6 linked regions of the Homo sapiens genome follow. The protein of the gene in region 6 purifies or fractionates together with the protein of the main gene of each other region. This does not show direct contact. Each region holds a gene or a part of one and is shown on either strand. Other genes may lie near its edges. The genes, in order: ESYT2, PITPNM1, MICALL2, DAZAP1, HMGN5 and FGD1.

Region 1 (3,500 bases), on a different chromosome or scaffold from region 6:
AGAATAACATACTATCCATAATATAGCATTTAAGAAAGGAGGATACTATACACACCCATATATCCAAACATATCATTAAAACATTAACAAAATCCACGGAAATGTTGCCAATGTAATGTTATCACTAGTTAGTAGAATTGCAGGTAACGTTTTTCTTCTTTATTCTCCTCCAAAGCTTATTCTTCAATGAGCATACTTTCTTCTTTAAATCAGAAAAAAATGTTTTTGAAACCTGTCTAGCCATAACATAAGAAATGAAGAAAAATACAACTACATGTTCATTAAATATAGAAAGATAAAGGGGGACTTCACCGTGTAACTGAACAAATTAAAAAAAAGAAACTCAGTTTCAATGACAATTTTACAAGTAATAAAGAAAGCATAATGAAAACCATCATATTAGTATTTCCACATCTGCTGTTGGTGTGGTTATCACTAATTCCAGCACGCAATCACCAAGCACAAAACTGAAGCTGTTATCCGAAAGGACACTGCTGCTGCAATACACAAGTGCACGTGGGATGTGCTTCTTACTTTGTACTGATACTTTCATCTAGACACTGCCGTAATCCATTAAACCCCATTCAATTTATACTTTACTAGCAACTACCATTATGGATGGTTTGGTATTATGGATGATCTTTTAAATATATTTTTTCTTGGATTTTAAAAAAGTGAACATGTATTATTTTTACTAAAAGAATGGGGGAGAGTCTAGAGAGATATTAACAAATGGATAAAACATTTCAATTACAAGGAATGAGTTCAAGAGATCTATTGTACAACACTGTAACTATAGTTAGCAACAATATAATATATTCTTGAAAAAGTCACTAAGAGTAGATTTTCTAGTGTTCCACCACAAAAAATGGTAAGCCCGTGACATAATGCATTTGTTAATTAGCTTGATTTAGCACATTCTACAATGTATACATATTTCAAAACATGTTGAACACAATAAAAATAATACTTTTATCAGATAAAAAAATAACAACAGCCAGGTGCAGTGGCTCACGCCTGTATTCCCTCCCAGATCTTTGGGAAGTAGAGGCAGGAGGATCGCTTGAGCCCAGGAGTTCAAGACCAGCCTGGGTAAGAAACCTCCCTTCTACAAAAAATTTTAAAAATTAGTGAGACGTGGTGGCGCATGCCTGTAGCCCAAGCTACTGGGGAGGCTGAGGCGGGAGGGGTGACTGAGCCCAGTAGGTTGAGGCTGCAGTGAGCCATGATTGTGCCACTGCACTCCAGTCTGGGCAACAGAGCAAAACCTTGTGTCAAAAAATAAATAAATAAAAATAATTGAAAAAAACCCACCAATTCATACTATGACTAATGCTAGGATTAAACAGATTTGCTGTGTTATTGCCGGCTGGTAAATTTCTGAGTTTAAGGCCTTGTCTTACACACATTTTGTGTCACTAGCACCTAACACAGTACCTAGAACATAGCAAATGCCTAATAAATGTCCATAAATTCATCAAGACTCATTTTTAATGCTTACATATAAATTGGACTAGTTTCTTAAAATGCGATCCAGGAAAAAATTCACAAAAATAAATAGTTTGCTTTAACAAACATTATAGAACTTTAAAAACAGTTAAGAAAAATAAATGAAGAAAAGAAATTAGTGACAGGAAGAAAGACTCTGGAAAAACCTCCATAAATAAAACATGCTTTATGGAAAAAATGATCCCATGCAAAAGACAACTACTAACATATTCACCATCTGTGTAAGAACTATGCCCCACCCAATTCCAAAAGAACAGGAGGTGACTCAGTGTTCAAGGAACAATAAGATCATTGAGAGTAAAAGAAGATCGCCTATTTGAAGAAAAGTGTGATGGGTACTCCCGGCTATTACAGTAGTACAGGGCCCAACAATCCAGCAATAATTTTGGCTGTGAGTTTTCTGGTAGCTACAGCAAGAATAGAAGTATACTGCATTACACAGTAGCTTTCCTTTTCTGATTTCACAAGCTTAGATCTGAACACATCACTACTTTCACCCCCATCATGTCCAAACTCTGTCTTAAAAGCACGACAGTAATCCCAGCCACGTCCCTGCATCCTGTAAATCAGAACTGCCCTGAGGGCCTGGGCCAGCCATCCAGAAGGAGCACTTCTACTCCTCCCAGGTCATGGGGACCTGGGCTGGGGTCTAGTGGGACCACTTCCTTTCCTCACTGCTGGGCCCAGAGTAAGTCCCAAGCTGAGTGCAGCCTTCTACCAGGTGGAGGAGTTACAACCCTATCAGAACTTCCATGCATTTCCCTCCAGATGAGACGGCCCAGAAATCTGCCTTTGCAACTGTCCTCCACACGGCCGCTCGCGCTGTTGCCACTGAACGTAAGGCCATGCCCTTCAATAAGAGTAGAATCTCTTCCCTAGCATGTCCGTAAATTTATAACACGCCCCCTTAGTTACCATCAAACCCTCCCTGCTCCTTTCTTCTGAGCCACCGTGACACTGGAGCCATCACCACAGCCCGCCTCCCAGGTGCTTCTTCTAACTACTCTGAGCAGAGTGTAAATATGAAGACAGGATGATTTCTTACACTTGTGTTGGCACAATCATCTGCATAGAGTGGGTCCTTACATCTCTAAATGAAGAAATAAAATTCCTCTGAGACAGAATCGTCATGAAAACTAAAAAAGATAATGACTTGCCAAACCATAACAAAATGCAAGAGACGACAAAAGACCACAATGTATTCTATAATACATGATAAAATTATGTTCTGATAGAATGTACCCAGTATGAAACAAACCAATCCATAAGCTAAACTACTCAAACATATGTGATGATTATATACTGATACCTTGAATCACAGTTAAGACTTTGGAATAACTCACGGAAAAACAGATTTCGGTTTTTTATATTTTTGAAGCATGATTTCTATTGCTATGCAATTAAAATTAATATTTGTTTAAGCCAATATAGTATAGCATCCGTGTTTAAGGGACTATTAGAGGCCCGAGGTGGTGGCTCACACCTGTAATCAGAGCACTTCAGAAGTGCTGAGATAGGAGGATCACTTGAGCCCAGGAGTTTGAGACCAGCCTGGGCAACATAGCAAGACCTCGGCTCTACTACAAGTATAAAAAATGTTCAAATATATAAAATTAAAAAATAAATAAAAATAAAGTAATATTAGAGCTGGGTACAATGATTCACACCTGTAGTCCCAGCCACTCAGGAGGCTGAGGCAGGAGGATCCCTCAAGCCTAGGAGTTCGAGGCCAGCCTGGGGTAACACAGTGAGACTCCAGCTCAAAAAATAAAGTACTATTAGGTTTAAGTTAAAAATATTTACCTAGTTTTTAAAATTCATATACCTAACCCTTTCATTAACTCTCCTTTAAAATGTAAATACCCCCAAACTTAAGTTAGAACAATATTCCTTAAAAACTTTTACAGTTTTAGCTAGAATTCCGTAAGCAAAGGTGTACCTCACTTTGCACTATAACTGACCACCTTTTCATCCATTATTAAAAGAAATTC
Region 2 (4,096 bases), on a different chromosome or scaffold from region 6:
AAACCCTTTCCCCCAGCACACAGCCTGGACTTGGCAAAGAGCAGGCTGGGTGAAAAGGGGGGAGGGAAGAGCACCCAGCGCCCAGGCAGATGGGTGTGGGGCAGGAGGCCATCCTGACTCGCTGCCATGGCCGCGCAGTCCTGGAGCGCTGGTGGGGGACCAAGCGGATCGACTACTCGCTGTACTGCCCCGAGGCGCTCACCGCCTTTCCCACCGTCACGCTGCCCCACCTCTTCCACGCCAGCTACTGGGAGTCCGCCGACGTGGTGGCGTTCATCCTGCGCCAGGTGGGCCTGGGAATATGGAATGGGAGATGAGAATGGGACGGGGATGGGCTGCTTTGGGCCGGGGGAGGGGCAGCCCTCCCTCCCCTAAGAGACAGAGGCCTCGCCCCCTGTCCCGTGCAGGTGATCGAGAAGGAGCGGCCACAGCTGGCGGAATGCGAGGAGCCGTCCATCTACAGCCCGGCCTTCCCCAGGGAGAAGTGGCAGCGAAAACGCACGCAGGTCAAGATCCGGGTAGGTGCCCTGCCCCTCGCCCCCTCGCCCACTCGCCCACTCTCGCCCACTCACCAGAGAGGCCCCGCCCCTCCCCCCAGCACCCCCCTCCTCGGGTCCTAGCCGATCCAACTCTCTCCCAGTCCTGCCCCGCCCCTGGGGTCCTGGCCCCACCTCATTGCCCCAGCCCCGCCCCTGGGAACCGCTGGTCTCCCCGCCCTCTGCGGGAAGTTTGGGTCTAGGGTCTGGATCTGCGCTGGTCCCCACCTCGCCTCATCCTCTGCATCCCGTCCTGTCACAGCTCTGCCCCTGGAGGCGCGGCCCACACACAGGCTCTCAGGCCGGGGTCCACAAAAGTGCGCCCCCCGGGCTTGCCCTTTTCCCTCAATGCCCCGCCGCCTCTAGGCCCCCACCCCGGTGTTTGCGTGTGGATCCTCACCCGCTCCCCCTCCCCAAGCATCCCCATCCTTTGCTGGCCGCGGACTCACGCCCTCTCCTCCCTCTAGAACGTCACTTCCAACCACCGGGCGAGCGACACGGTGGTGTGCGAGGGCCGCCCCCAGGTGCTAAGCGGGCGCTTCATGTACGGGCCCCTGGACGTCGTCACGCTCACTGGAGAGAAGGTCAGGACCCAGAGGCCCTGTCGCCTGGTCCCATGGCCCCATCTCCTGTCCTCGGAACAGCTCCTGGTCCCTGGTGGTTGTGCCCCTAGACCCACCCATCCCCGACGACAGCCCCGCCTCTGCCCACCTCCACGCAGGGCCCCCATTTACCTCCCGCCCCTTCTCCCCTCCAGGTGGATGTCTACATCATGACGCAGCCGCTGTCGGGCAAGTGGATCCACTTTGGCACCGAAGTCACCAATAGCTCGGGCCGCCTCACCTTCCCAGTTCCCCCAGAACGCGCGCTGGGCATTGGTGTCTACCCCGTGCGCATGGTGGTCAGGTGAGCGCGGCTGGCCGGGCCTCTGCGGGAGGGCTCCGCCAGGCCTCGCCCCGCGCCACTCACGCCCCGCCCCGTGGGCCGCAGGGGCGACCACACCTATGCCGAATGCTGCCTGACTGTGGTGGCCCGCGGCACGGAGGCTGTGGTCTTCAGCATCGACGGCTCCTTCACCGCCAGCGTCTCCATCATGGGCAGCGACCCCAAGGTGCGAGCTGGCGCCGTGGACGTGGTCAGGTAGGAGTTGCCACTGCCACCACCACCCATTTCACCGGGGTGACCGGCCCCTCACCCCTGGCCAGCGGAGCTGACCGCTGCCCCCGCCCCACAGGCACTGGCAGGACTCCGGCTACCTGATCGTGTATGTCACAGGCCGGCCGGATATGCAGAAGCACCGCGTGGTGGCATGGCTGTCGCAGCACAACTTCCCCCACGGCGTCGTCTCCTTCTGCGACGGCCTCACCCACGACCCACTACGCCAGAAGGCAATGTTTCTGCAGAGCCTGGTGCAGGAGGTGCGGCGGCTGGGGGAGGCTCCGGGTCCTGACCCCGCCCCCGCTCCCCCTTACCCTCCACCCCCGGATCGGCGGAGGCCCATCTGTTCCCAACTGGATCGGCCCGGGCCCTGCCTGACTGCAGCGGCCCGCTACGGTCCTGCTCCCCTAGTTTGAGGGGCCCCGTGTACTTAGGGGCAACTAGGGAGATGCAGCTGGTCCCGCCCCTGTCCCCGTGGGACTGGGACCTGTCTTCGCCTCCGTCTGCCTGGACCCACCCCCAGAACAATCTGGGGAAGCCCAACAGGCCCCGCCCCCAGCTGCACGGCTCCACCCCTGGGGCGGCTGATTGGCATCTCCCGCCACAGGTAGAACTGAACATCGTGGCCGGTTATGGGTCTCCCAAAGATGTGGCTGTATACGCGGCGCTGGGGCTGTCCCCGAGCCAGACCTACATCGTGGGCCGTGCCGTGCGGAAGCTACAGGCGCAGTGCCAGGTGAGGCCCAAGTGAAGGCCAGGAACAGGACCCCACCAGGGGGCAGGGCCCTCAGTCCCAGGCCTTGGGAACCACGGACTCTGGGGAAGATGTGAGAAGGCCTAACCGGCCTCCAGGGAACCTGGGATCCTCCGAGGACAAGGGCCATGAGCAGCTTGAGCTGCCAGCTGCCAGGCAAGCCAGAGGGGACAGCCCACACTGGAAAGTGCTCAAGACCCTAGGCGCTGGTTCCACTCGGCCATGGCTTTCCACTGTGACCTTTCTGAGCCTCAGCTTCCCATCTGTAAATGGAAATGATCATGGCACTGCCCATGTCAGCTTATGAAGATCACATCAACAGGCACAGGGCTGGGCACAAAGCAAGTGCTGGCTAAACATTGGCTGCTGTTATTTTTCCTCTAAGACCCCATTTTCCAGATGAGGAGACTGAGGCCCAGAGAAGGGCAGAGCTAGGAGCACAGCCAAGGTGCCCTGGCTCCCAGCCTGGGGTCCTATCTATTGAGAAGGCTTCAGCTCAGGCTGTGCCAAGCCTGCCACCAGTCCCCCAGCCTGCCTCAGGTGCCTCTGGAGGACCGTGGAGGGCAGCGTGTGGGCCCTTGGCCAGCACCCCCTCATCGCTGCCTACCTCTGCCCACAGTTCCTGTCAGACGGCTATGTGGCCCACCTGGGCCAGCTGGAAGCGGGCTCGCACTCGCATGCCTCCTCGGGACCCCCGAGAGCTGCCTTGGGCAAGAGCAGCTATGGTGTGGCTGCCCCCGTGGACTTCCTGCGCAAACAGAGCCAGCTGCTTCGCTCGAGGGGCCCCAGCCAGGCGGAGCGTGAGGGCCCGGGAACACCACCCACCACCCTGGCACGGGGCAAAGCACGGAGCATCAGCCTGAAGCTGGACAGCGAGGAGTGAGGCCCACACCAGCCTGGACCTGGGTTATTTATTGACACACCCAAGGGGCCCGAGGGGCTGCGTGTGGGAGGCTGGGGACCCAGACTTTTGGCCCCAGCGCTGGCCCCCCCAGCCCCACACCCTATATCTCCGTGTGCTCCTCGGTGTTACTTCCCTTTCATATGAGGGGACCCAGCGCCGGGGGGAGGGAGGAGGGCGTGGGCATGGGCGCAGAGGCTTTTCCAGTGTGTATAAATCCATGAAAATAAACGCCACCTGCACCCCACCCACTCACCCCATGCCTGGCATCACAGGGCAGCCAGCCCAGTTTCCAGTTCAACAGGGGACACTGATGTGCACAGAGAGGCCAACACACACCCAGGGCCATCCAGCTCACAGGCAGGGTCAGGATGGGGGCCTGGGCCTCAAAAGGTCGCACGAAACCCACGCCCAGGGCCATCCATGTCACAGGCAGGTCAGGATGGGGGCCTGGGCCTCAAAAGGTCTCACGAAGCGCTCGGCCCTCTCCTCTTTCTGGACAGTCAGCCCACCCCAGCCCAACCCGGCTCACCTCAGCCCCAGCGTAGCTTCTCATGGAAACCCTGCCCCCAGACACCGAGGCCAGGAGACCATGGGATCCGAGGCTGGAGTGGGAGGGCAGCACCAGGAGACTACCTCCCTCAGGTGCCCAGCTACCTAGCTTGTACCCACTTCATCTCCCCCTTAAGACTGTGGGCTCCTGGGGCGCCCCAGCCCTGGCCAGCGAGAGACACTTCCTTGGTGAAA
Region 3 (3,500 bases), on a different chromosome or scaffold from region 6:
CGGCGGGGTGGGGAGGGGGACCTGGCTGCCCCCAGGTGGGGAGACAGAGCCACGCTTCAGAGCAGGGCCACTGGGAGCCTGGGGTCTGTCCCAGCACAGCCAACAGCTCGCTGGGTAGCCCGGCCATCCCCATGCCCTGGGCCTCCCGACTGGCACAGGGTTGGCATCACAAGCCCTACACCCACGTCCTGCCCAACCTGGCCATGTCTCCCCAGGGGGCTAACCCACGGGGCTGCTGGCTGCTCAAGGTCACACAGGAAGTGGCACGAGAGCTGGATATGGATCCAGGGCAGCTATGAGTGCTAGGAATACACACAGAGATGTGTGTGCACACACACGCATCACACACGAACACGGGTGCACACGTGGACACACATGCATCACATTCATGAAACAGATCCACACATGGGTACATGCACCACATACATGAACACGGTTGCACACACATGCATCACACAGATGTACACATGGACACACATGCATCGCACATGAACACAGATGTACACATGGACACATGCATCACGTGTGGGCACACATGCATCACATACACGAACACAGACACATGGACACGCATCACACATGTACACATGCATCACACGCATGAACACTGATGTACACATGAATACACATGCATCACACATCACATACATGAACAGACACATGGACATGCATCACGTGCACATGCATCACACACATGAACACAGATGTACACATGCGCACACATGCATCACGCATGGATACAGGCATCACATACATGAACACATGCACACATGCATCACACACATGCACACATGTACACACAAGCCTGCCCAGGACTACCAGCTTCTCTGGCTGACCGGAGCGCCTCTCCGCACACCCCAGGAGGTGGCACTACAGGTCCAGTCCCGGGGCCCCCACCCAAGGGGGAGGGCCAGCTAGGCAACCCGGGGGCCCCTGGGTCCCGTCCAGGAGTACCTGGGAGGCTGGGTCCTGGGCTGGCTGGGCGTGGGGTCCTGTCAGGCCTCACGGGGGTCAGGGTGATGTGGACACTCCCAGCAAAGCTGCCTGAGACCTTCCTGGGGGCCTCCCCCGCCCTCGGCTCTGCCAGGGCCCGTGGTTCCTTGGGCTTCAGAGTCCTGGGCAGAAGGCATGAGGTCGGAACCCGAACCACCAGCCCCAGGGCCTGGCCCACCTGGAGGGGCTCCCAGGCCATATGCAGACCAGCCGGAGGGAGCAGGTGGCCTTCTGAGCAAATGCCACCTCCCAGCCCACTGACTACACCTGCTGGGACCCTCCTGCAAACACACGTGTCCATCGCTACCTGCCGTGGTGCGAAGCAGATTCCAGGCGTGAGCTCCGGGCCCCACGGGACCCACACATGGGGAGACTCCACCCCAGCTGCAGGCATGGTGCGTGAACCCACACGGGTGCTGCCATGCCCAGGTGAGACACGCAACGCTGCCCCCAAACCAGGGACAGCGGCCCCCATGTCCCTCAGGCAGGGGTGACCTGGCCTCTGCTACTCACAGGGAGGTGCGTCTATCCCTGGATAGGCGTGTCAATCGGTCGATTACATACTCACTGCATTTATTAAGCACCTATGGTGTACCAGGCCCTGGGCCAGCCCCACCCATCCCTAACCTCTCAGCTGGGCTTCTCCTGTCCACGGGCTTCAGATTCGCTCTCCATCCTGCCGGCCCGTCCTCCTGGCCTTCCTGGAGGCTGGTGCTCATGTCTGGGTGGGAGGCAAGGGGTCTGGGTGTGAGGAAGGAGTGCTGGGAATGGGGTGTCTGCAAGGGTGGCTGTGCCTCCCCCTGCCATCTTCCCATAGCCACTCCACCCTCAGACACCCCCACAGCCAGCCGGCCGGGGGGCATCAGGAGCACCGGGCAGGGAGTCAGGGGAGGGGCTCCCAGCTGGCTCTCCTGTGCTGTGTGTCCCTGGGGGAAGCTCTCCCTGCCTCTGGGCCTCAACTTCCCCTTCTGCCGAATGGGTGGGGACGTGGCAGGGTGAGCCCCGTGGACCCTGATCCTCTGTCCACCTGTGCAAGGGGAACACCTGAGCCACGGCTGCCCGTCTGCAGGCTTTCTTGGCTCCTGGGTCCTGCAGGATCCAGCGCGTGGCTTTAACAATGAGAACTCAGCCAAAGAGAAGGATCTGGAAAAACCCTTTGCAGCCCAGCTTGTTCCCTGAGCCCAGCTCGATAAAGCCATGGGAACCTCTAGCTTTTTTCTACACACACCCAGGTGGCAGGGACAGCCAGTTTCCTGCAGTGGGGCGAGGCGGGGGGACTCGGCTGCCCCCAGGTTGGGAGACAGAGCCGTGCATCAAAGCAGGGCCGCCAGGAGCCTGGGGTCTGTCCTGGCACAGCTGACAGCTCACTGCGTAGCCTGGCCATCCCAGTGCCCTGGGCCTCCCAGCTGGCACAGGGTTGGCCTCACAAGCCCTAAGCCCACGTCCTGCCCAGCCTGGCCATGATCACCCAGGGGGCTAACCCCTGGTGGGTGACAGCCAGTTGCCTAGAAGAAAGCTCGCTCCCTGTTCCCGAAAACACGTGAGGCCATAAAACAGGACTGTGTGGTCCAGGGAGCCCCCAGGAAGAGCTCCCAGCCTAGGAGGCACCAGAGCCCTCAGGTCATAGGGCATCGTCACCAGACCACCACCGGGGGGGACGGAGCACAGGGCGCTCTCACCTGGACACCACCAGGGGGACAGGGCATACTGGGACACCAGCGGAGGGGACGGGGCATAGGGCACCGTCACCGGGACACCACAGGGGGGACGGGGCATAGGGCACCATCTCCGGTATGTGGTGACACAGGGTGCCACAGCAACAGCGCGACGTTGTCAAAGCGACAGGCAGGAAGCGCAAAACACCACGGGAGAACAGGAGGCCCCACAGACCACGGCCAAGCCAGGCCACTGCTAGCCACAGGATGTAACTGCCAGACCGAGCTGAGCGGGACGCTGCAGGGCTGGGCTGCAGGCACCTGCAGGACGTGCGGATGGGGTGGGCTGGGTGCCGGCAAACAGCATAGCCCTGAGGACATTTGCAGCCACCACACAGAGAGCGCACCAGGACCCCAGGAGGCTGCGAGCAGGTGTCACGGAGGACAGAGATGAGACGGAGAGGAAGGCGGGCGGGGCTGATGATGAAACCGCACACACTGCAGAGTGCGGCCAGGGGAGAGTCCCAGAGCTGCGGGCCCCCGGGGCCTCCTGCCTCCCAGCCCCTTACTCACCCTGCGTTAAGGTGGTGCTTTTACCCTTTGCCATCGGGGCCTCTGGCTTCGGCCTGGAGCCAGCACCCACCCTGCCGACCCCTGAGGATTCCGCCAAGTTCCTCCTGCCTGCCGGGGGCAACGCGGATGCCTGAGAGGTACTGCTCGTGCTCAGCGGGGCTGGCGGTTCCATCCTCGAAGGGAGGCCAAGCACCCGGGGAGACGAGGACTGTAACGGCTTGGCTAAGGGACTTGCTTGTGGTGCTTCAGTTTTGGGCTGAGAACTGGGAACAGCGGCAG
Region 4 (4,062 bases), on a different chromosome or scaffold from region 6:
TCCCAAAGGAGGACACTGTCCATCACATCCACCATGTAGGGTCCGCGTGCCAAACCCACCAGGATCCAGAGAGGGACTCCCCACACCCCACCACACGTATGCGCTTCCTCCTGCATGAAGCCCCCCTCAAGCTGACTGGAAGTCGGTGTGTGTAAGGCATCCGTTATCACCGGCAGGCCTCAGCTGACTTTCATCCCCCATCAAGCTTTACATGGACTTCTAAGCCAGCACAGGGACCCTCAAAACTTGGGACGACTTCTCAGACTCAAAAGCAGAGCTTCCCCCAAGGATGGCTCCCTAACCCACCTTCCAGGTGTGGATTCCCAGGGCAGCAGCTGGACGGCCACAAGTGTCCCAGAACAGGGGGCTCCCAAGCTCCAAGTCTCCTGAGGCGTTGACCCCGCACCCATGCATGCTCCAGGCCCAGCCCTCCAAGCGGGGTCCGGCGGGATCTCCTGCCTCCTCCATGGCAGTGAGCAGTGAGGGCTCTGCATCAGGAAGAGGGAGCTCCTCAGGCTGCCGAGCCCCCCCAGTGGGTAAGGGACACCGCAGACCCATGGCGTCCTGAGAGCCGCCATCTGCCGCAGAGAGGGCCTGCTTCCATCCAAGCTCAGCACCCTCCTGCATGGCACCCACCGCACCTGCAGGGGACTTGCCAGGAGGGCGCTTCGCAGGGTCACAAGCATTTCACGCACACAACAACTCCACACAGCAAGATCAGAGCAGACCGTGGACTCCGCATAGAATGGAAGCCGGTCTCCCATGCGACGGGCGGCTGTGGCAACACTTCTTGCCCAAGGAGTCTGACTTAGAAAGCAGTGGACACTCCTGGCAGCCGGGGAGGAGAGCAGGGTCCATGCACTCCAGTTCTCCTCCACGCAGCCCGTGGCGTCCGGGTGGCCTGCGAGCCTATTTGTGCTGTGGGTGGGACCCCTCCAGACCCAGGCTGGGACCCCAGCTGCCCCACTTCCCAAGGGTGTCCATGCAGGGAGGGGACAGGAGCCCTCACCTCTCTCCAGCCTCCTCACAGCCACGGCTTGGGTGGAGCGGGCCCACGTTCACCCGCGGCTTGAATGGACCTAATCCAGGTACCCCATCTGGGAGCCCTTTCCCTGCCTCACCCCAAAGTCGATGGCTCCATCCCCCATGGCCGGTGGACTCCCTGCTCAGGCCCATCCCTGCAATGTCCCTCACACAGGCACACGGACCCTGCCAAGTCAAAGTGCCTGGAGAGGACTCACAGCACGGGCTAGGCAGGGGCTAAGTGCTTTCATCCTGGTTCTCCAACGGAAGGTGCTCTTTTGTTTTGTCTGGGGAGGGGGAGAGCCCACAAAAGGCATTTCCCATCCACAAGTGTGACCTGTAGCTGGTGCGAGAGGCGCCTGCCAAGGCAACCCTCTAGCAGCAACCGCTCCCGCACTAGCCAAGCCCAGCGCTGAGAACACAGGGCGCTGCTCAAAGCTAAGGGCACCGAGAAATTTACACCAGACCACTAGGAAACCCAACCCAGACTGTTTTGCCGGAAGAATGCAACTCTAAAACGACGTCGCTGCGGCAGGAGCCGCTCCTACCAAAGAATGGCGCCGAGCCCTGGGGCACAGCGAAATGAGGTTTCCCGGCCCCGCGGGGTCCGGAGCAGGTCAGGCTCCTATAGGAGGGGACGCCTCGGCGCAGCAAAGATCCGCGGGCCCGTCGCCGCCTCGGAAGCGCTGACTCTCCCTTCCGCAGCTCAAGCCCACCCCCGGCGGGGAGGCGCCGAGGCAACGTAAACACAGCAGGCCCCGGCTGACCCGAGCCCCCTGGGCCCTGGGTTTGCGAACCCCTCCCGACCTTACCACTTTGGGGGGGTGGGATGGGAGCGGGGAGCCCGGAGCCCCGAGTGGGATAGGTTGGGCGGTGGCAGAACCGGAACCCTCGCCTCGGCTCGCCACGTGCGCCGCCCGCCAAGTTTGGGCGCGCGCTGGGGGCGCCCCGGACCACCCCCCACGCCACAGTTTGGGGTCCCCCTGGCCAGGAAGCCGGGAGGCGGCGGCGACGGCGCCCTGGACTCCCCGCAGACTCCCTCAGGTTCTCATTCGGGGTCCCCCAGGCCAGGAAGCCCTACAGGCGGCAACGGGGACGCTCCAGACCCCCCCAAGTTCCCGTTCGGGGCCGCCACAACCAGGAAGCGGCGGCGGGGGCCCCTGAACCCCTCTGGCTCCCATTCGGGGTCCCTCAGGACGCGCAGTCGGGAAGCGGCGGCACGGGCGCCCCAGGACACCCCCCCAGGTTGCCGTTCGGGGTTCCCCCGACCAGGAAGTCTGGAGGCGGCGGCGGGGCCCCCCGGACCCCTCAGGCTCTCCTTCAGGATCCCCCAGGACGGGAAGCCGGGAAGCGGCGGCGGGGGCGCCAGGACCCCCCCAGACCCCGGGCACCCGTCCAGGGCCCCCGGCGCGAAGCCGCGGCGAGTCCGGGTCCCGAGTCCGCCCCCGGCCGGCGTGACCTTGACGGGGCGGCCCCGGGGGGCGGCGTCTGAGGCCGGGCGGCGGGGAGCGGCGGGCCGGGCTCGGGGCGGAGACGCAGGCCCGCGCCGCTCGTCCTCACCCGATCTCGTCGGCGCCCGAGTTGTTCATGGCGGCGGCGGCGGCGACGCTCGGCGCTCCCGGGCCTCCTCGCTCGCTCCCGCCTCCGGAAGGTCACCCGCTCCGTCGCCCTCCCCACAGCCGCGGCCCGGATCTGCGCAACGGCGGCGGCGGCGGCGGCGGCGGCGGCGGCGGCGGCGGCGGCTGCCTCCTCCCCTCGGCGCCAACGGTCACCGCGCGTCCCCGCGCCGCCGCGCCGCCGCCCCTGCGCACGCCCGGGCGCGCTCCCGCACGGGGTCTCCGGGGGCGGGTCCAGGGGTACTCCGTCTGTGCGTGCGTCCCTGAGGCGGATTTCGCGCCGCCGCAGTCGGGGCCGTCGCGCGTTTTCCTTTCTCCTCGGAGGCTCCTGGCGTTGCCGCGGGGCACGCTGGGAAATGGAGTCCCTGCGCTGGCCCCGCCCCTGCAAGGGGAGGATGCGCGCGGGCCGAGCCACGTGCGTGCGTGCGCGCGCGTGCGGGCTTGCGTGCGCGTGCGCGCTTGCGAGACCGGCGCTCCGGGCTAGGCACTGTGGGCGCAGGCGCGGCTGCCGCTTCCTCTTTAACTCTTCACTCGGAAGCGGTGGAGCCGCGTGGGGCGCTGCGGGGAGTGGGAGTGTACCCGCCCGCACCCCAGGCGGGCGGACGGAGCGGGAACGGCACGTGAGCGTCCCGCGCGAGGCTCCTTCCCCTGTCCGCATTTCACAGAAGAGGATCCCGAGGGTCCGAGAGGCTGAGTCACTTGGCCAAGGTCACCCAGTTCGGGGCTGAACTGGAATCAAATCAAAACAATTAACTAAATTCAATGACTATGAAAAGATATTATTGACCCCCCCCCCAAGTGCTATTACTATTAATAGCCAAATACTGTTTTAGTTGCATCTGTTAATTGCATACATCAGTGGTTCTTCTTCTGGGTGACTTTGCCCCCTAGGGGATAACTTGGCAATGTCTGAAAACACGGTTTTGGTTGTCACAACTTGAGTGCGGGGTGCTGCTGGCATCGAGTGGGTCCAGACCAGACATGCCGCTCAGCACCCTGCAGTGCACACGACGACCCCCCAAAAAGAATGATACCCGTCCTCCAATGTCAGCAGAAGGAGGTGGAAAAACCGGTCTAGGCTGACGGTAGTAAACAGGTGACCCGCAGGGTTTTGTAAAACCGGGTACGTGCTGCCTACTGCTTTTCTCCTTAATCTCACAGCACATTGACAGCCTGATCGTTTGGTTTATTCATCATCACAGAATTAAATAAATACAAGGAACAAGGCCGGGTGAGGTGGCGCACGCCTATAATCCCAACACTTTGGGAGGCCGAGGATCAATTTAGGTCAGGAGATCGAGACCAGCCTAGCCAACATATATAGTGAAACCCCGTCTCTACTAAAAATACAAAAGAAAATTAGCCGGGCGTGGTGGTGGGCGCCTGTAATCCCAGCTACTCGGGAAGCTAAGGCCGGAGAAAT
Region 5 (3,500 bases), about 27 Mb from region 6:
TCTTCTCCTTTCTCTTTTCCATCTTCTCCATTTCCTTTTCCGTCTTCACCTTTTTTTCCATCTTCTTTCTCTTTTGCATCTTCTCCTTTCTCATTTCCATTTTTATCCTCTTTTCCATCTTCTTCCCCTTTTTCATCTTTGTCTTCTTTTCCAGCTTCCCCTTTCTCTTCGTTTTGATCTTCTTCATCTTCTTTCTGATCTTCTTCTTCATTTTTTACTTCTGCTGCCACTGCTTCTTTCTTTTCTCCTCCCTTTTCTGTGGCATCTTCAATATTTTCTTCTTTTACTTCCACAATTTCTTTTTCAGAAGCTGGTGCCTGTAAGTATAGTGAAAAGAAAAACAAGATTCTGTCTGTAAATTTAGAACCATTTCCCCTAAATATTTACACTGGATTATATCTATTTCACAGAAAGACTAATACTTCATTTAAAGAAAGTAATTTTCCTGTGAAAGAAGCCTGCTAAATATCACATTATGAGAAAACATTCTAAGAAATGAGATTAACTAAAATATGTCCACGGAAATATCTACAAATAGATATTTGAAACAATAAATACAGAAACACTTATAAATACTTTTTATTTCAAATATGAAGAAGCACAAAGTAAATACTTAAAGGATGACATATATTTATTCTGTATCAGCAATTCTTAATGAGGACTATGCATGTAAACAAAATATAGTCCTTGGAAAATAACATATTTTGTTTCTATAATAATGATATTTTTTATGTAAAAATTACTTGAAAAGTACTGTACCAGATATTATAAGATAACTTACAAAAGATTTTCCATATTTGCATATGTTTGGTTTATAGATTTGGTGGCTACACCCATTTTCAGTGTTTTATTACAATACCTAAAAATGTTGTATGCATTAAATATGCAAAATAAGATTAAAAACATTTATATAATGATTTGCTTTGCCATCCACAGAGGAAATAAAAGAATCATAAATTCTGGAAAAGGGATTTACAAATAGCCTGTGTGCTGATAAAAGGAATAAAGATTGGCTTGTATTTAATAAGAAGGTTGTTATGTTAGTACTAAGTCATAATCATTGGCATTGTTCTAGTAACAGCAATGCTAAGCCACTGCTCGCACTACTGGTCCCTCTAAATTCTCATATTTTAAGTTAATTTTATTTTCCTCTTAGATACCATTATACTATAGAACCACTGCTCACTTAATTTTTTTCCAACTTATAAACTAAAAGGCAAATAGGATTTCTTTCAGTTGTACCCATTGTTAAACTTTCAAATAGATAAAACTGTTAACATTAGAAAATACCTCTGTAATTTTGGCTTCTCCATTTTTAGCATTTTCATTGTAGTCTTCTTCAACAACTGCTTCTTGCTTGGTTTCAGCAACTGCTTGGGCACTTGTATCTATGTTTTCTTCCATCATATCACTTTTTGTCTTCATTTTCTGCCAAGCAATATAAAACAATGAAAGTAAATATACAATTTAACTGCTGTGTTGATTAAATGGTCACAATTATTTTACCAGCTGTTGTAATAATTTATGCAAACTCTTTAAAGTATCACATATAAATCTGGTATCAACAAAATTATCATATAATATCTTCATTGTAAATTTCATTGTAAGCCTAAAGCAGGATTAAAAATGAACAATGTTCCCTTGATATAAACAAAATAAATTTCCTTTTAAGTTGAGTGATATAGATGAGAGGCAACCAGTTAGAATGCTGACTAGTTGCTGCCAAGGACAAACTGCTGGCATCAGGTTAGACTGATCAATTAATTCCCTCTGTCTAGAGAGGGTCAGTTTATTTCTGTCAAGTCTAATTAATAAGGAACAGGGTTTTGTTGATCGTTACGCCTCCATTGGTAATAATTAAGAGAAATGCTGTTAGTGAGAACAACAATTTAGATATATTTTTAAAAGACCTTATGGTGATGTAAGTGTTTCAATCTTTGTATCTACAAGTTTGGAATGCCCTGATTCATGACGACTTCACCAAGAAAATTTTTGCCTACCTGTGTATGTAATAGAAAGACCACTGGATTGAGGGGCCGGAAAACCTGTGTTTGAATTCTAGATCTGCCACTTATGTGATGTGATCTTGAGCAAAGGCATAAGTATCTTTGAGGCTGTTATTTTCATATATAAAAAGAGAGTAATACCACCCACCTCACGGGGATGTTACAAGGAGAAAATGAGAAAACACATGAAAAAAATGCTTTAGAAACTGTAATTTGTAATTTAGATATAAGTTATTACTCTTTTAACACATGAGAAACAGAGCCAAGGAGGGTAAAGTCTATGGTTATATAGTATATGTTTTAGTCTAGCCCTATTTTTCTTTTCTTTTCTTTTTTTTCCGTTTTTTTTTTTTTTTTTGAGACAGGGACTCCCTCTGTCGCCCAGGCTGGAGTGAGGCAATCTCTGCTCACTGCAACCTCCTCCTCCCAGGCTCAAGCAATCCTCCCACAACAGCCTCCCAAGCAGCTGGGACTACAGGCATGCCCGGCTAATTTTTGTATTTTCTGTGGTGATGGTGATTTTCTATGTTGCCCAGGCTGGTCTCAAACTCCTACGTTCAAGCAATCTGCCCATCTCAACCTTCCAGAGTACTCAGATTACAGGTGTAAGCCACCACGTCTGGCCTTACTTTTCTTTTTAAAAGAAAATATGCTGTATTTACTGTTTTAAAAACTAGTAAGTTGAATATTTAACCTTATATAATAGTGGACTTGAAAAGTAAAATGCAGAAAAAAAAACCTTCTTTTCTTTTGTCACCATTAAATATATCAATTATTACTAAAACTTCAATTTCCCTAAGTTTAGCAATATTTTTTAATAAAGGATTTCATTTATGAACATAATGACAGTTTATACTTTCTTCAACTACAAAGTGATAGGATTAGATGCTCTCTAATGTTTCTCATAGCTTTAACCTTTTATGATTTCAGGAATTCAATCAATATTCTTATGTATTAAGCAATTAGCAGTAAACTAAATATTGAGATTATATCTATTTCTACATGCCTTTAGCCATAACACCAGAGTATATAAGTCCATACAAAATCAATTGTGTCCATTTAAAATTAACATATGCAAATACATCTTACATATATTATATATATAATTATATATAATCTTATATACTTTGCCAACTGTAAAATATTATCAAATGTTAGTTACTACTTTTATTACAAAGCACAACTTTGGGGTTACTACTGTTTTCACCTTTTGTTTTCCCAGGGAAACAGTATTGTCACTATATGATAGCAAAGGCATGTACATTTAATGGGCCTATCCAACTGAAATTGTTTTGTCTCTACCCAGTGAAAATGTCAAAACACTGTGGACAATCACAAAACAGAACAAATAATCCCCACCCAAGGGGTTTACATGTATCATATGATAGAATATAATATATTACTAACTGAACAAAATATAAGCAAAGTAAAATGATCAGCTGTATGCCATTTCAAAAATTATTTTTGAAAAAAAAAGCAAATTTATTTCAATAT
Region 6 (3,500 bases):
AAAATGTTTTATACAGTGCATGACTGTATATGTGTATGTATGTATATGTGTGCAAATGTGTATGTATGGTTACATATGTATTTTTTGGGTGCTGAACCATTTTAAAGTAATTAACAGACATTGTGACACTAAGCCCTCAGCATGCACTGCTGCAAAACAAGGCCATTCTCCTGCATAACCACCATAACATTATCACACCTAAGACAGCAATAATTTCTCAATATCTAATGTTCACTTTACATCCACATTTTCTCTTATTGTCCCACAAATGTCTTTTAGGGCTCTTTTTCCCAAACCAGGCTTCTGTCATGGACCAAGTACTGCATTTGATTGTTATTTCTCTTAGATCTGTGAATCTACAATAAACTATTTGTGGTGGTATTATTCATGTTGGGTTTCACATCCCATTCTTCTCTCTCCTCTAACAAAATCCACCAGAAGAAATTCTTGGTTTAATTAGGGAGAGCTTATTCATTTTCCAAAAGGTTTCCCTGGCAGGAGTGCCACCTTTCCCCATATCGTGAAGTACTCACCCTGAATCTAAATGGTGTCTAACCCTTAGGGATCACCCCCACCGCTGAAGAGCAAGCCTGCATCTTTGGGGAAAGGTGCCCATCCTTTCTCTGGAACAATCTCTGGGCCTGGAATGCCTCAGCATATCTGAACAAAAGGGAGGTAGGCGCTGGAGGAAAGGCATAGGCAAGGATAAGTACCTGGCCTGGAGCTCGAGGGAGCGCTGCTTTCCTGACACCAGGAAGGTTCGAGGCAGATTGAGGTTGGAGCTCTCCTTTAGCTGAATGGAGGCAGAAAGGGGCATGGTGAGGCCACTGAACTCCACAGGGCCCTAGCCCTCTGCACACATACACACACAGACTCGGGGTCAAAGCCAGCATCTTTGTTCCTCCCAACACCAATGCCCCACTCCAAGTTCCCATTTCCCACCTCTTGGATGCTTACCTCCATGCCATCTACATCAATGCGTGCCCGCACGCTAAACTTCTGGCCAAGGAGCCGCAGCCTGGGCACGCAGTAAAGGAGGCGGTCGTTGAACTAGGAAGGAAAAAGTTTGGGATGTATGTGCAGAGGGCCTAGTGGGGATGTGGCCCAGCTCCTTGCCCTGAAGCTTTACTGCCAAGGACTGTAGGCAATAGATGGAGAAAAGACAGCCCAAATTGGGCACAGGGGTCACAAGGAAAGAGCCTAGGCATGGAAGACACTTCCTAGTGGGGAACCTCGGGCAAGTCACTTCTCTGCAAGGCTTATTTGCCTCATCTGTAAAGTGGAGAAAAAAAATCCTAGCTAGGTAGTGAAAATACAATTCGTTACTAGAGGAGAGAATGACTAGCAGGAGGTATAGTCTGTTTTTCTTTTTTTTCCTCTTTCAGGAATGAAAGGAGGTATAGTCTTTGAGTGAGTACCAGGTCACTATGTGTGTGTGTGTTGGGAGGGGCATGACCCACCCACAATTCCATGCCTGGCACTTACTAGTATGAGGTATCGGTCTTGAGTGGTCCCATTCTTTGCTGACAGCTTAAGGATGTGGCCTTCTTTTATGAGCTCTTTGGTGGGGCTGACAATGTCCTCCTCGCCCCCTAACAGCTCATATACCTTCAGCAGCTTATGCATTCGCTCCTGGCAAAAGACAGGGAACAAAAGGCACGGTTGGGGTGCCAGCCTCCTGTCAGATGCCCACAAGTCACGACACCCCCACTCCAGGATGGAGACACCACAGGTGGGTGGCCAAGGAAGGGCAGGGGCTAGAAGGGCCACTCACCATTTTGCGGATGGCAGCATTCGAGTGCTCTGCTGCTGTGGCGATCAGCTCCAGAGACTCTACAGGCATAGAGGGGTGAGGTCAGATGGGGGACTAGCAGAGAGGAGCCTTTCCGGGGCTTTGTTTTTTGTTTTTTTTTTTTGAGACGGAGTCTCACTCTGTTGCCCAGGCTGGAGTGCAGCGGCATGATCACGGCTCACCACAACCTCTGCCTCCCGGGTTCAAGCGATTCTCCTGCCTCAGCCTCCCAAGTAGCTGGGACTACAGGCACGTGCCACCATGCCTGGCTAATTTTTGTATTTTTAGTAGAGACGGGGCTTCACTATGTTGGCCAGGCTGGTCTCGAACTCCTGACCTTGTGAACCACCCACCTCAGCCTCCCAAAGTGCTGGGATTACAGGCGTGAGCCACCGCACCCGGCCTCGGGGCTTCTTTCCTCCCTGAATACCTCCTCCTGGCCTGATCACACCCTCCCATCTCAGAAAGCTCCACCCTCAAAGATGTCCACAGCAACATCATTTAAAATCAGAAGTTGTCCAATGTCACAATGCCAGAATCACAATAGATGGAGTAGTTGGCAGCCAATAAAAAAATGCAAGCTTGCCAAGATTATTATTACCATTAATAATAACAATAATAGTTACATATGTAACCAGAAGGAAGCATACCCATGTTGTCTCTGGTTGGTGGGGCCGTGGGTGGTTTTTATTGTCTTCTTTAGGTTTTTCTGTATTTTCCGTATTTTTGACAAAGAACATGTATTACTTTTATAATCAGAAAAAGCCATATAAAGAAACAATGAGATGATCCTGTTCTTTGTCTCAATGATTCTGATTCTGGGTATCTATTCTAGGAAAATACACATTCTATACACAAACACATTTTTGTCATATTGGTATTTACAACAGTTCCAAGTGGGAAACAAAAATGTCCATCTGTAGGGGAGCACACCTTCACCTGTACCTCTTCCCTGCCAAAAAAAATGGCCAACTGTAGGGGTTCAGTTAAATACATTATGGTGTCTTCATATAATGGAACATTAAACAACCTTTACAAATGATCCTCATGTAGGTCTTTTAATAATCTGGGAAATGCTCAGGGTGTTTTAAGAAAAGGATACAAACATGTTTATATAGAATGATCTTACTTTTACAAGTATACATGTCTAAAAAACACCAGGAAGAATTTATGTCACAATGTTCATTGTGCTTATTCTCTGGGGGCTCAGATAACAGGGGATTTTTTTCCTACTTCTTTCATCTTTTTCTGTAATTTCCATATTTCCTATAGTGACCAGGTATCATCAAAAAAAAAAAAAGAAAAAGCTGAAATGAGTCCCTGTACATCTCCACACACTAATAAATCCCACCCATGCTTAAGGCCTGGCCACAGTCTTTGTGTACCCCATTCTGTATGTGCTGGATCTCCCCACTCAGATCAGCCTGTGCTAGAGGAGCAGAGGTGCTTCTGAAGGAGGTCCATATGGCTGGCCAACCAAGTCGTGTTTTCCTAAGAGGCTCTCTCTTCATGACCAAGTTTTGGTGCTCACGGAGATCTATGGCCCCTGTCCCAGCTCAGGCATCCACATGCCTTTCAGGGGCCGGGCTCCAATCTCCAACCCTTATTCCATCCTAGCTGCCAGAAGGAGCTTTCTCACACAGTTTACTGTCACTCCTCTGCTCAAATCTGTCAATGGCTCCCCTGTGCCTGCAGGGTAAAGACCTAG

The links.
Region 1: the proteins of FGD1 (region 6) and ESYT2 purify together in Homo sapiens (affinity purification with mass spectrometry, with the first as the bait; one large-scale study listed by BioGRID). This does not show direct contact.
Region 2: the proteins of FGD1 (region 6) and PITPNM1 purify together in Homo sapiens (affinity purification with mass spectrometry; one large-scale study listed by BioGRID and IntAct). This does not show direct contact.
Region 3: the proteins of FGD1 (region 6) and MICALL2 purify together in Homo sapiens (affinity purification with mass spectrometry; one large-scale study listed by BioGRID and IntAct). This does not show direct contact.
Region 4: the proteins of FGD1 (region 6) and DAZAP1 purify together in Homo sapiens (affinity purification with mass spectrometry; one large-scale study listed by BioGRID and IntAct). This does not show direct contact.
Region 5: the proteins of FGD1 (region 6) and HMGN5 purify together in Homo sapiens (affinity purification with mass spectrometry; one large-scale study listed by BioGRID and IntAct). This does not show direct contact.

Annotation. Positions count from the first base shown.
Region 1 is NC_000007.14:158,819,510-158,823,009, forward strand, and holds part of ESYT2 (extended synaptotagmin-2), read right to left. Parts: intron 1-3,500. UniProt on the Homo sapiens protein: Tethers the endoplasmic reticulum to the cell membrane and promotes the formation of appositions between the endoplasmic reticulum and the cell membrane. Binds glycerophospholipids in a barrel-like domain and may play a role in cellular lipid transport.
Region 2 is NC_000011.10:67,491,268-67,495,363, reverse strand, and holds the end of PITPNM1 (membrane-associated phosphatidylinositol transfer protein 1), read left to right. Parts: intron 1-138; coding exon 139-287; intron 288-407; coding exon 408-518; intron 519-1,003; coding exon 1,004-1,120; intron 1,121-1,293; coding exon 1,294-1,442; intron 1,443-1,526; coding exon 1,527-1,676; intron 1,677-1,770; coding exon 1,771-1,954; intron 1,955-2,301; coding exon 2,302-2,430; intron 2,431-3,067; coding exon 3,068-3,331; 3' UTR 3,332-3,596; downstream 3,597-4,096. UniProt on the Homo sapiens protein: Catalyzes the transfer of phosphatidylinositol (PI) between membranes. Binds PI, phosphatidylcholine (PC) and phosphatidic acid (PA) with the binding affinity order of PI > PA > PC. Regulates RHOA activity, and plays a role in cytoskeleton remodeling.
Region 3 is NC_000007.14:1,438,971-1,442,470, forward strand, and holds part of MICALL2 (MICAL-like protein 2), read right to left. Parts: coding exon 3,222-3,500; exon of another isoform or gene 2,193-3,221; coding exon of another isoform or gene 1,715-2,192; coding exon 1,621-1,714; intron 1,116-1,620; coding exon 955-1,115; intron 26-954; coding exon 1-25. UniProt on the Homo sapiens protein: Effector of small Rab GTPases which is involved in junctional complexes assembly through the regulation of cell adhesion molecules transport to the plasma membrane and actin cytoskeleton reorganization.
Region 4 is NC_000019.10:1,406,324-1,410,385, reverse strand, and holds the start of DAZAP1 (DAZ-associated protein 1), read right to left. Parts: upstream 2,801-4,062; 5' UTR 2,613-2,800; coding exon 2,584-2,612; intron 2,502-2,583; exon of another isoform or gene 765-2,501; coding exon of another isoform or gene 307-764; intron 1-306. UniProt on the Homo sapiens protein: RNA-binding protein, which may be required during spermatogenesis.
Region 5 is NC_000023.11:81,114,914-81,118,413, forward strand, and holds part of HMGN5 (high mobility group nucleosome-binding domain-containing protein 5), read right to left. Parts: intron 1,429-3,500; coding exon 1,291-1,428; intron 318-1,290; coding exon 1-317. UniProt on the Homo sapiens protein: Preferentially binds to euchromatin and modulates cellular transcription by counteracting linker histone-mediated chromatin compaction.
Region 6 is NC_000023.11:54,454,735-54,458,234, forward strand, and holds part of FGD1 (FYVE, RhoGEF and PH domain-containing protein 1), read right to left. Parts: intron 1,834-3,500; coding exon 1,775-1,833; intron 1,633-1,774; coding exon 1,486-1,632; intron 1,051-1,485; coding exon 958-1,050; intron 794-957; coding exon 714-793; intron 1-713. UniProt on the Homo sapiens protein: Activates CDC42, a member of the Ras-like family of Rho- and Rac proteins, by exchanging bound GDP for free GTP. Plays a role in regulating the actin cytoskeleton and cell shape.